3 linked regions of the Homo sapiens genome follow. The protein of the gene in region 1 purifies or fractionates together with the protein of each later gene. This does not show direct contact. Each region holds a gene or a part of one and is shown in the gene's direction. Other genes may lie near its edges.

What was found.
Region 2: the proteins of MAP1A (region 1) and RAPGEF3 purify together in Homo sapiens (affinity purification with western blotting, with the first as the bait; one study listed by BioGRID). This does not show direct contact.
Region 3: the proteins of MAP1A (region 1) and NUP155 purify together in Homo sapiens (affinity purification with mass spectrometry, with the first as the bait; one large-scale study listed by BioGRID). This does not show direct contact.

The regions. Positions count from the first base shown.
Region 1 is NC_000015.10:43,526,717-43,530,723, forward strand, and holds part of MAP1A (microtubule-associated protein 1A), read left to right. Parts: coding exon 1-2,792; intron 2,793-2,933; coding exon 2,934-3,154; intron 3,155-3,352; coding exon 3,353-3,508; 3' UTR 3,509-4,007. UniProt on the Homo sapiens protein: Structural protein involved in the filamentous cross-bridging between microtubules and other skeletal elements.
Region 2 is NC_000012.12:47,741,881-47,745,380, reverse strand, and holds part of RAPGEF3 (rap guanine nucleotide exchange factor 3), read left to right. Parts: intron 1-1,312; coding exon 1,313-1,394; intron 1,395-1,704; coding exon 1,705-1,851; intron 1,852-3,500. UniProt on the Homo sapiens protein: Guanine nucleotide exchange factor (GEF) for RAP1A and RAP2A small GTPases that is activated by binding cAMP.
Region 3 is NC_000005.10:37,308,607-37,312,106, reverse strand, and holds part of NUP155 (nuclear pore complex protein Nup155), read left to right. Parts: intron 1-1,363; coding exon 1,364-1,555; intron 1,556-2,534; coding exon of another isoform or gene 2,535-2,585; exon of another isoform or gene 2,586-2,684; intron 2,685-2,839; coding exon 2,840-2,978; intron 2,979-3,500.

The DNA.
Region 1 (4,007 bases):
GAGCCCCTGGGCCTCAGACTTCAAGGATTTCCAGGAATCCTCACCACAGAAGGGGCTAGAGGTGGAGCGCTGGCTTGCTGAATCACCAGTTGGGTTGCCACCAGAGGAAGAGGACAAACTGACCCGCTCTCCCTTTGAGATCATCTCCCCTCCAGCTTCCCCACCTGAGATGGTTGGACAAAGGGTTCCTTCAGCCCCAGGACAAGAGAGTCCTATCCCAGACCCTAAGCTCATGCCACACATGAAGAATGAACCCACTACTCCCTCATGGCTGGCTGACATCCCACCCTGGGTGCCCAAGGACAGACCCCTCCCCCCTGCACCCCTCTCCCCAGCTCCTGGTCCCCCCACACCTGCCCCGGAATCCCATACTCCTGCACCCTTCTCTTGGGGCACAGCCGAGTATGACAGTGTGGTGGCTGCAGTGCAGGAGGGGGCAGCTGAGTTGGAAGGTGGGCCATACTCCCCCCTGGGGAAGGACTACCGCAAGGCTGAAGGGGAAAGGGAAGAAGAAGGTAGGGCTGAGGCTCCTGACAAAAGCTCACACAGCTCAAAGGTACCAGAGGCCAGCAAAAGCCATGCCACCACGGAGCCTGAGCAGACTGAGCCGGAGCAGAGAGAGCCCACACCCTATCCTGATGAGAGAAGCTTTCAGTATGCAGACATCTATGAGCAGATGATGCTTACTGGGCTTGGCCCTGCATGCCCCACTAGAGAGCCTCCACTTGGAGCAGCTGGGGATTGGCCCCCATGCCTCTCAACCAAGGAGGCAGCTGCCGGCCGAAACACATCTGCAGAGAAGGAGCTTTCATCTCCTATCTCACCCAAGAGCCTCCAGTCTGACACTCCAACCTTCAGCTATGCAGCCCTGGCAGGACCCACTGTACCCCCAAGGCCAGAGCCAGGGCCAAGTATGGAGCCCAGCCTCACCCCACCTGCAGTTCCCCCCCGTGCTCCTATCCTGAGCAAAGGCCCAAGCCCCCCTCTTAATGGTAACATCCTGAGCTGCAGCCCAGATAGGAGGTCCCCATCCCCCAAGGAATCAGGCCGGAGTCACTGGGATGACAGCACTAGTGACTCAGAACTGGAGAAGGGGGCTCGGGAACAGCCAGAAAAAGAGGCCCAATCCCCAAGTCCTCCTCACCCCATTCCTATGGGGTCCCCCACATTATGGCCAGAAACTGAGGCACATGTTAGCCCTCCCTTGGACTCACACCTGGGGCCTGCCCGACCCAGTCTGGACTTCCCTGCTTCAGCCTTTGGCTTCTCCTCATTGCAGCCAGCTCCCCCACAGCTGCCCTCTCCAGCTGAACCCCGCTCGGCACCCTGTGGCTCCCTTGCCTTCTCTGGGGATCGAGCTCTGGCTCTGGCTCCAGGACCCCCCACCAGAACCCGGCATGATGAATACCTGGAAGTGACCAAGGCCCCCAGCCTGGATTCCTCACTGCCCCAGCTCCCATCACCCAGTTCTCCTGGGGCCCCTCTCCTCTCCAATCTGCCACGACCTGCCTCACCAGCCCTGTCTGAGGGCTCCTCCTCTGAGGCTACCACGCCTGTGATTTCAAGTGTGGCGGAGCGCTTCTCTCCAAGCCTTGAGGCTGCAGAACAGGAGTCTGGAGAGCTGGACCCAGGAATGGAACCAGCTGCCCACAGCCTCTGGGACCTCACTCCTCTGAGCCCAGCACCCCCAGCTTCACTGGACTTGGCCCTAGCTCCAGCTCCAAGCCTGCCTGGAGACATGGGTGATGGCATCCTGCCGTGCCACCTGGAGTGCTCAGAGGCAGCCACGGAGAAGCCAAGCCCCTTCCAGGTTCCCTCTGAGGATTGTGCAGCCAATGGCCCAACTGAAACCAGCCCTAACCCCCCAGGCCCTGCCCCAGCCAAGGCTGAAAATGAAGAGGCTGCGGCTTGCCCTGCCTGGGAACGTGGGGCCTGGCCTGAAGGAGCTGAGAGGAGCTCCCGGCCTGACACATTGCTCTCCCCTGAGCAGCCAGTGTGTCCTGCAGGGGGCTCCGGGGGCCCACCCAGCAGTGCCTCTCCTGAGGTCGAAGCTGGGCCCCAGGGATGTGCCACTGAGCCTCGGCCCCATCGTGGGGAGCTCTCCCCATCCTTCCTGAACCCACCTCTGCCCCCATCCATAGATGATAGGGACCTCTCAACTGAGGAAGTTCGGCTAGTAGGAAGAGGGGGGCGGCGCCGGGTAGGGGGGCCAGGGACCACTGGGGGCCCATGCCCTGTGACTGATGAGACACCCCCTACATCAGCCAGTGACTCAGGCTCCTCACAGTCAGATTCTGATGTCCCGCCAGAAACTGAGGAGTGTCCGTCCATCACAGCTGAGGCAGCCCTCGACTCAGATGAAGATGGAGACTTCCTACCTGTGGACAAAGCTGGGGGTGTCAGTGGTACTCACCACCCCAGGCCTGGCCATGACCCACCTCCTCTCCCACAGCCAGACCCCCGCCCATCCCCTCCCCGCCCTGATGTGTGCATGGCTGACCCCGAGGGGCTCAGCTCAGAGTCTGGGAGAGTAGAGAGGCTACGGGAGAAGGAAAAGGTTCAGGGGCGAGTAGGGCGCAGGGCCCCAGGCAAGGCCAAGCCAGCGTCCCCTGCACGGCGTCTGGATCTTCGGGGAAAACGCTCACCCACCCCTGGTAAAGGGCCTGCAGATCGAGCATCCCGGGCCCCACCTCGACCACGCAGCACCACAAGCCAGGTCACCCCAGCAGAGGAAAAGGATGGACACAGCCCCATGTCCAAAGGCCTAGTCAATGGACTCAAGGCAGGACCAAGTAAGTATATCATGAAACTTGGCAGAGAGTGTGGGTTAGGGCTGGGTGTGGGCTGGTCAGACTTCAGGAGTGGGACAGAGGGGAAGGTTGCCAAAAGGGTTCTACTTTTCCTCTACAATGAATCCTGGCTTGTCTCTACAGTGGCCTTGAGTTCCAAGGGCAGCTCTGGTGCCCCTGTATATGTGGATCTCGCCTACATCCCGAATCATTGCAGTGGCAAGACTGCTGACCTTGACTTCTTCCGTCGAGTGCGTGCATCCTACTATGTGGTCAGTGGGAATGACCCTGCCAATGGCGAGCCAAGCCGGGCTGTGCTGGATGCCCTGCTGGAGGGCAAGGCCCAGTGGGGGGAGAATCTTCAGGTGAGTAGCAAAGGACACCAAGGAAGTAGTCTGGTCAACGCTCACTCAGAGGCAGTAGTGGAACACAGTCCCTATTTATTAAAGGATGGGCCTTTTCTAAGGGCAGCAGAGCTGCTTCTGAGACCATGAGGTGCCCCTTCCCCCTCACCTACCTTCCCTTTATGTTCTCACATCAGACATATCTTATCTCCCTTCTAGGTGACTCTGATCCCTACTCATGACACGGAGGTGACTCGTGAGTGGTACCAACAAACTCATGAGCAGCAGCAACAACTGAATGTCCTGGTCCTGGCTAGCAGCAGCACCGTGGTGATGCAGGATGAGTCCTTCCCTGCCTGCAAGATTGAGTTCTGAAAGAGCCGCCCTCCCTTCCCCAAGGATCCACTCCCCCAGCTCCTTTAGAGAATGGCTACTGCTGAGTCCTTTGGGGTTGAGGGAGATGGGAGCTAGGGGGAGGGGAGGGAGATGTCTTGTTGTGGGGACTTGGGCTGGGCTAAATGGGAGGGGTTGTCCCTCCCCATCATCCATTCCTGTGAGGTGTCTCAAACCAAAGTTAACAGGGAGAGGATGGGGGAGGGGACAAATTAGAATAGGATAGCATCTGATGCCTGAGAACCCTCTCCTAGCACTGTCAAATGCTGGTATTGAATGGGGACTGAGGATGGGTCTCAGAGAGCAACCTCCTCCCTCGTAGAGGGAGATTATATCCCCAACTCCAGGGACCTCTTTATCTCAATCTATTTATTTGGCATCCTGGGAGGGATTTCCAATAGTAATTTATGTGACCTGGGGCAGGATACCGTCAGTGAGGTGCCCAGAGCTGCACCCTTTCCTCCATTTCCCATCCCCCATC
Region 2 (3,500 bases), on another chromosome or scaffold:
GTTTGAGCCAAGGTTGGCAAAGTCTGATTTGTGTTTTGAATAGGTCAGCTAAAGAGCCTGGGCTTTCTCCAGCAGACAATGGACGCCACTGAAGTCGAGTGCGGGAGCTTCACAGGGCTCTGGTCAGGCAGATTGGAGGAGGAGGGCTGGAGGCACCTGGGAGGGAGGAGGAGGAGCATAGTTGGGCCATTGGAGTAGATAAGGAGTGAGGCCTCGTGGGCAGGTGGAACTGGAGTTAGCCTGGGCAGGGGAGGAGGGGGCACAGAAGACCCACTTCAAAGAAGAATCTTCAAAGCAAGATGACAAGCTACGGAAGTGTGGAGGAGCCTGGAGCTGGGGAGAATGGCTGGGGAACAGAGTGGTCTGGGAGGCAGGATGCAAGGATCCGATGGGTATATGGAGTGTGAGGTAATGGATCATTCATGTGGAAGGATGCAGGGGGTTTTTGAGACCAGGGTTTGGAAGAGAGTTCAGCACTGCTGGTAGTTTTGGGAATCACCCATGTGCAGGCGACACATGAGGCAGTAAGGAACTCTGCAGGGGTCCCTGAGATTTGGAAATGTAGGGAAGAGCAATGGATTGAGGTCCGAACCTGGAGGATCTGCTATACGCAGAGCTGGGAGGAGGGACAGAGTCAGTACCAGAGTCGGAAAAAAGCAGGGTGGGAAGGGGAACCTGAGTCAGGAGACTTGCCTGGCAGGCGCTGCCCTGCCAGCAGAGGCCTGACAGTGGTTTCCATGAACTGCATCCCTGCTGTGGGCTGGGACAGGGCCACTGACACAGTATCGGAGCACAGAGGGGGAAAGGAGCAGGAGGGATTCCAACTCTGCCAGTTAGCAGCTGTGTGGCTTTGGGCATGTTACTTAACCTCTCTGAGCCTCATTTATTTCATCCATAAAATGGAAATAAAAATAATACTTTTGTCAAAGGCGCATTGTGAATATTTAGATCCTCAGAATAATGCCTGGCTTGTAGCAAATGGTAGCTGGAGGAAAAGGAAGAGAAAACCAAAGTCAGCAGCTGAAGGATTTTCATATTAGAACTGCTCTGGACCTATCTGGCAGATGCAGAAGCACACACACACGGAGGGGCATGGATTTGCCCCGCCCTTAGACATGTTGTGTCTTCTCCTGGATCCTTGGTCCCAGGTGCCTTACCTGAGCTCAGGTGAATGTGGCAAGCAGAGCCCTCTGGTGGTGTGAATGCTGTGTGGCGCCCGTGCTCCTGGTGACACAGGGACCTCACAATCCCTCCCTCCACGGTCTCCTCTCATGTCCTCCCAGCCTTATTTTCTCGTTCCTCTTCCTCCCAGGCCCGGAACTTGCCTGTTTGGCTCCCCAACCAGGACGAGCCCCTTCCTGGCAGCAGCTGTGCCATCCAAGTTGGGGATAAAGGTTGGTGGTCTGTGCCGGCTGGGCACAGCCCGACATCTGCACCCTGCTGTCTCTGCCTCTCTTGTCCTGCTGTCGTCACTCTTGACCTCGGTGTGCCTGGGCCAAGGTGGCACGCTGTACTCCTCAGGGTCTGTGTTCCAGGCTGCTGGCTAGATCTGCCTCCTACCTGCCTCTTTTTTGCTCAGGGCCTCCCCACCTGCAGCTCAGCCTCTTGGGGATCCCTCCCACCATTACTGCAATAGCCGCCCTCTCCCTCCTGGGGTGGAGATCAGGCAGCCCTTCCCACAGCTCAGTCTGGTCTCCTCTTCAGTCCCCTATGACATCTGCCGGCCAGACCACTCAGTGTTGACCCTGCAGCTGCCTGTGACAGCCTCCGTGAGAGAGGTGATGGCAGCGTTGGCCCAGGAGGATGGCTGGACCAAGGGGCAGGTGCTGGTGAAGGTCAATTCTGCAGGTGGTGAGTTGTGCCCCTGGATAGACCCCAAGGGAGGGTGGCCCCTCGGATCTGCGCCCAGGTCCCCCAGTCAAGATCATTGTCATCATTGTCATCTTTCTGGTCTTCCTCAGTGTGAATGATGGCTAGCATTAATGGGAGGTGGAGTGCGTCTGTTCGAAGTGCATTTCATGCAGTGTGTAAGAGCATGAGCTCTGGAGCCTGCTGCTTGCATTCGGCACCAGCCCTTTAGCTCACCATCTGTGTGTCCTCTGGCAGGGTACTTCATCCCTCTGTGCTCAGTTTTATCATCCATAAAATGGGAATAGTAGGAGTACTTGCCTCCTGGAGGAATTGTGAGGATCAATTGAGTTCATCTATGAAAGCATTTAGAATGGTGCCCGGCACATAGTGATACATAAGTATTAGCTGCTATTATTATCATCATTTGTGTTTAGTCATTTAATATGAATTAATAACAATCTCATGAGATACAGGTACTTTTATCCTATTTTCAGACAAGAACACTGAAGCTCAAAGGGCATGAGCTATTCCTCAAGCTCACACAGTGAGAGTAGCTGGTCTTGGAACTTAAGTAGTCTTCATTTGTTTAGTCACTCAGCAAACATTTTTGAGGATCAGCTATGAGCCAGCAATATGTTAGGAGCTGGAGATACCACAGCAGGTAAAACAGGTCAGCTTGATGGTTAAGAGCATAGACGGTGGACTCCCAGACCCGTGAAGGCATCTTAGGCTCACCATTTACTAGCTGTGTGATGCTGGGCAAGTTGCTTAACCTCTCTGAGCCTGCATTTCCTCACCTGTCAGATGAGGACTGTAATTGTATCTACCCACAGGGTTGCAATGGCTAAGTGAGCTAATGTGTGTAAAGCACTTAGCACAGGGCCTGCCAGTCAGTGCTGAGAACATGGCGGGCTCAGGAGTATTAAGATGGGCCTCCAGAGAACCTGGAACATTCAAAACCACTGTTCTCTGCGGAGGGCACGGGCTTGACAGCTGGAACCCAGGGCAGACAAGAATTAGGGGCGTTCAAGAAGTGGGGATGAGAAAAGAAAAGCCTTCTCCCTTCAGGAAGTGGGGAGAGATGGTCACCTGTGTGCCCTGCCCTGGGAAGCACTGCCCTCTGCTGGCCACCTGGTGAGTTGCAGTTGCCCAAAGGTCATGTTTATTGAGACCCTACTATGTGCCAGGCACTGTTTAGAGCACTGATCTCCGAAGCACTTGGATCGACACCCATGTCAATAACCAACATTTAATTAAAACCCACACCCCACTGTGTGAATATTTGTTTGTAAGTAATACACATATATTACTACATTAATATCATAATAAAGATAGATAAAATAGAAATTGATGGAGTAGAAATGCAAAGCAGGTAGAAAAAGTAAACGTAAGTAGAAGAGCTCATATTTTCCCCAGGCACATGGATGATCTGATGTACCTTACTTTGGAGGCCACTGCTCTAGGGACTGGGGACTCAAGCACAGTCCCAGTCCATGAGGAGCTGATGAAAATCAACACCAAGGCTTATATAAGACACTTCCCAATTTTCAAAGGGCTTTTATACATAGCATGTACTTATAGCTACTATTTATATACATTATTTTATTTGACTTATGAAATAGTTGGGGCAAGTCTTATTGTCTCCATTT
Region 3 (3,500 bases), on another chromosome or scaffold:
ATAATCATTGCTGGAATTTATTATTTCATTTAGGATTACAAAAGGGTAATATTTATTTATTTGTTTGTTTGTTTTTTATTTTTTTTGAGACAGTGTCTCATTCTGTCACCCAGGCTGGAGTGCTGTGGAGCAATCTGAGATCACTGTAACCTCCACCTCCCGGGTACAAGCAGTTCTCCTGCCTCAGCTTCCCGAGTAGCTGGGACTACAGGCATGTGCCACAACGCCTGGCTGATTTTTGTAGTTTTAGTAAGAGACCGGGTTTCGCCATGTTGGCCAGGCTGGTGTTGAACTCCTGACGTCAGGTGATCTACCTGCCTTGGCCTCCCAAAGTGCTGGGATTACAGGCATGAGCCACCATGCCCGGCCAAAAGGATAATATTTTAAATCTGTGATTCCTTCCCCAGTTACTAGCTGCAATTCTGTAAAAAAAAAAAAAAAAATTCTTTTTCCTTGTCCTGTATGGATATTTCATTACTCTGAAACACTTACTTTTTGACTCTCGTATACCATTTTTCAACGTTGGAAGGCAGTCTCCTCATTCTTTCCACTAGTGTCCAATGAATAGTGTGGCTTTTGTTGGTGGTTTTGTTTCTTTTAAATACATACTGTTTTTTATTTTTAAAAATTCAAGCTAATATATTTAATTATGAAACTTATCTTTTTCATACCAAGTAGAATAATAATTTTGAGTTTTATAGAGTGATAAATATATTGTAGGTAGGTTTTTATCCTGGGTATGTTTTTGTGATCCATCTTCAAAGCTCTCTTCCTTACATCACCAATGGCATGCTCAATGAATGCAAATTAAAGATTTGTTCAAGAATTTTAACACAGTTTGGGTATTTCCTTGAATTTAGAAAAAAGAGATAGCAGTCACATCACTAACAGAATCTTTTACTATAGTATAAATCAATACTTTAGAGCTTCATTTGGACAAGCAGATTTGTTCACAATACAGATTAAACTCCAATATTATTATAAGGCCTAGAATAATGGAATTCTAACAGTGTTTAGGAAGGAGTAATATGTAAGCCCAAGATTTTCAAATATAGCCAAGTGATTGTTTTTTCCATTTTATAACCAAAGCCAGGAGATCTGACTCTAGTTTTGGCTCTACTTAAGCTTTACTTTTCTCATTTGGAAAGTGAGAGTTTTGGACTAGATCTACTGTAGGTTCTTTTCCAACTCTCTATGATTTTATGTAAGTTCGCAAAAATTTGTTTCTACTAATTAGTATATTTTCGCTTTTCAATTATAGAGTCTATTAATATTTAGGTTATTTTAATTTATTAAAATAATTTCATTATGTTTAGAAATATGGTATTTCTATAATTGTGATAGAAAAGTTTTATGCTCCTAGGAACTTCAAGAGCAGCTGAAGATCACCACCTTTAAAGATCTTGTAATCAGGGACAAAGAACTCACAGGGGCATTAATTGCTTCTCTTATCAACTGCTACATCAGAGATAATGCCGCTGTTGATGGCATTAGTTTACATTTACAGGATATCTGCCCACTTCTATATAGCACTGATGATGCAATTTGTTCTAAGGTATGATACTTTATTACCTATTTCATTGTTTGTTATAAGAGGTATCATGTATGATGAACCATCTTGTTTCACTTAATATAGGACCTCAGTCAGTTAGATCTCTTAACCTCTCCTAGCCTCAGAATCCTCATCTAAGAAAGGGGTTGGAATATGTGGCTTCTTAAAACCAGTGTATACTCTTTTAAGCTTAGCTTTTCTTTTTAAAAATATTTTTATTTATTTATTTGACACAGGGTTTCACTCTGTTGCTTAGGCTGTAGTGCAGTGCTGTGATCATAGCTCACAGCAGCTTCTAAGTCCTAGACTCAAGCAGGCCTCTCATGTAGCTAGGGGCTACGGGTGTGCACCACTACACCCAGCCAATTTTTTTGTTTTTTATAGAGACAAGTTCTGATTTGTTGCACAGGCTGGTCTTGAACTCTTGGCTTCAAGTGATCCTCCTGCCTCAGCCTCCCATAGTGCTGGGATTATAAGTGTGAGCCACCATGCCCAGCCCTCCTTTAAGTTTTTCATAAAGAATATTCTCTCTTTTTTTTTAAGACTGAGTACGATCTCAGCTCACTGCAACCTCCACCTCCCAGGTTCAAGTGATTCTCCTGCCTCGGCCTCCCAAATAGCTGGGATTACAGGTGTGCACCATCACACCTGGCTAATTTTTTATATTTTTGGTAGAGACAGGATTTCACCATGTTGTCTAGGCTGGTTTTGAACTCCTGACCTCCGCCTGCCTCAGCCTTGCAAAGTGTTGGGATTATAGACATGAGCCTCTGCGCCTGGCCCATAAAGAATCTTTGATAGTGTTTCTAGGCCATATTAAAAAACCAAAGGTGAGAAATTAAGAAAAATCACTAAATTTAGAAATTAAGGAAATTTAGGGGATAATTTATCTCCTTAGCTTAAGGAAAAGTACTAAAACTTCAAGTAAATCTTTTAGTGAATTAGAGTTAATGGGGGCATTTTTATTGATCCTTTCCTACAGGTGGAAAAAATAAATAAATCAGTGTCACATGGACTGCCTGCTGCCCAATAATGTATTGACTAGGCAAGAGAATTACCAGACAAAAGTTCTCTTGCTTAACATATTTGGGAGAGGAATTAAGAATAGCTAGGAATCTTTGGTCAAAAACTTTTCTGCCTAAAATTAAGAAGTAAGTTTGTAGAGTTGTTTTCATTTTAATGGTAATAACCATATATAAATTTAGACATAGACTAAAACTTAGTTGACAGCATCATCTGTCTGCTTGATTTTATATATTTTTAAGTTCTTGTTATCTCCTCTTCTAGGCAAATGAGCTTCTCCAGCGTTCCCGACAAGTTCAAAATAAGACTGAAAAAGAAAGAATGTTAAGGGAATCATTAAAGGAATATCAAAAAATTAGCAATCAAGTGGACCTTTCCAATGTTTGTGCTCAGTATAGACAAGGTGAGAAATAAAATGTTTCTTGTATCTTTTACTCAACTCAAAAGACAAACAATAGTGTATGAATGAAGCAAGCTAATGATGAAAAGCCACTTTCCAGATGCAAATCTTCTTTCAGCATCAGAGGCCGAGTGAAAGGACGTAGGAATGTGGTATCATTGTGTTGCAATATTTGATGACTACACTGACCTGCAGAAGCTGTAATGTTCTTTCTATTTTTTGAAATGTACTTTTTTTTTTTTTTTTTTTTTTTTTTGAGAGTCTCGCTCTGTCAGCCAGGCTGGAGTGCAGTGGCACGATCTCAGCTCACTGCATCCTCTGCCTCCCAGGTTCCAGCAATTCTCCTGCCTCAGCCTCCCGGGTAGCTGGTATTACAGGCGCACGCCACCACGCCCAGCTAATTTTTTATTTTTTTATTTTTTTATTTTTTTTATTTTGAGACAGAGTCTTGCTCTGTCACCCAGGCTGAAGTGCAGTGGTGCGATCTCAGCTCACTGCAAGCTCTGCCTCCCAGGTTCACGCCAT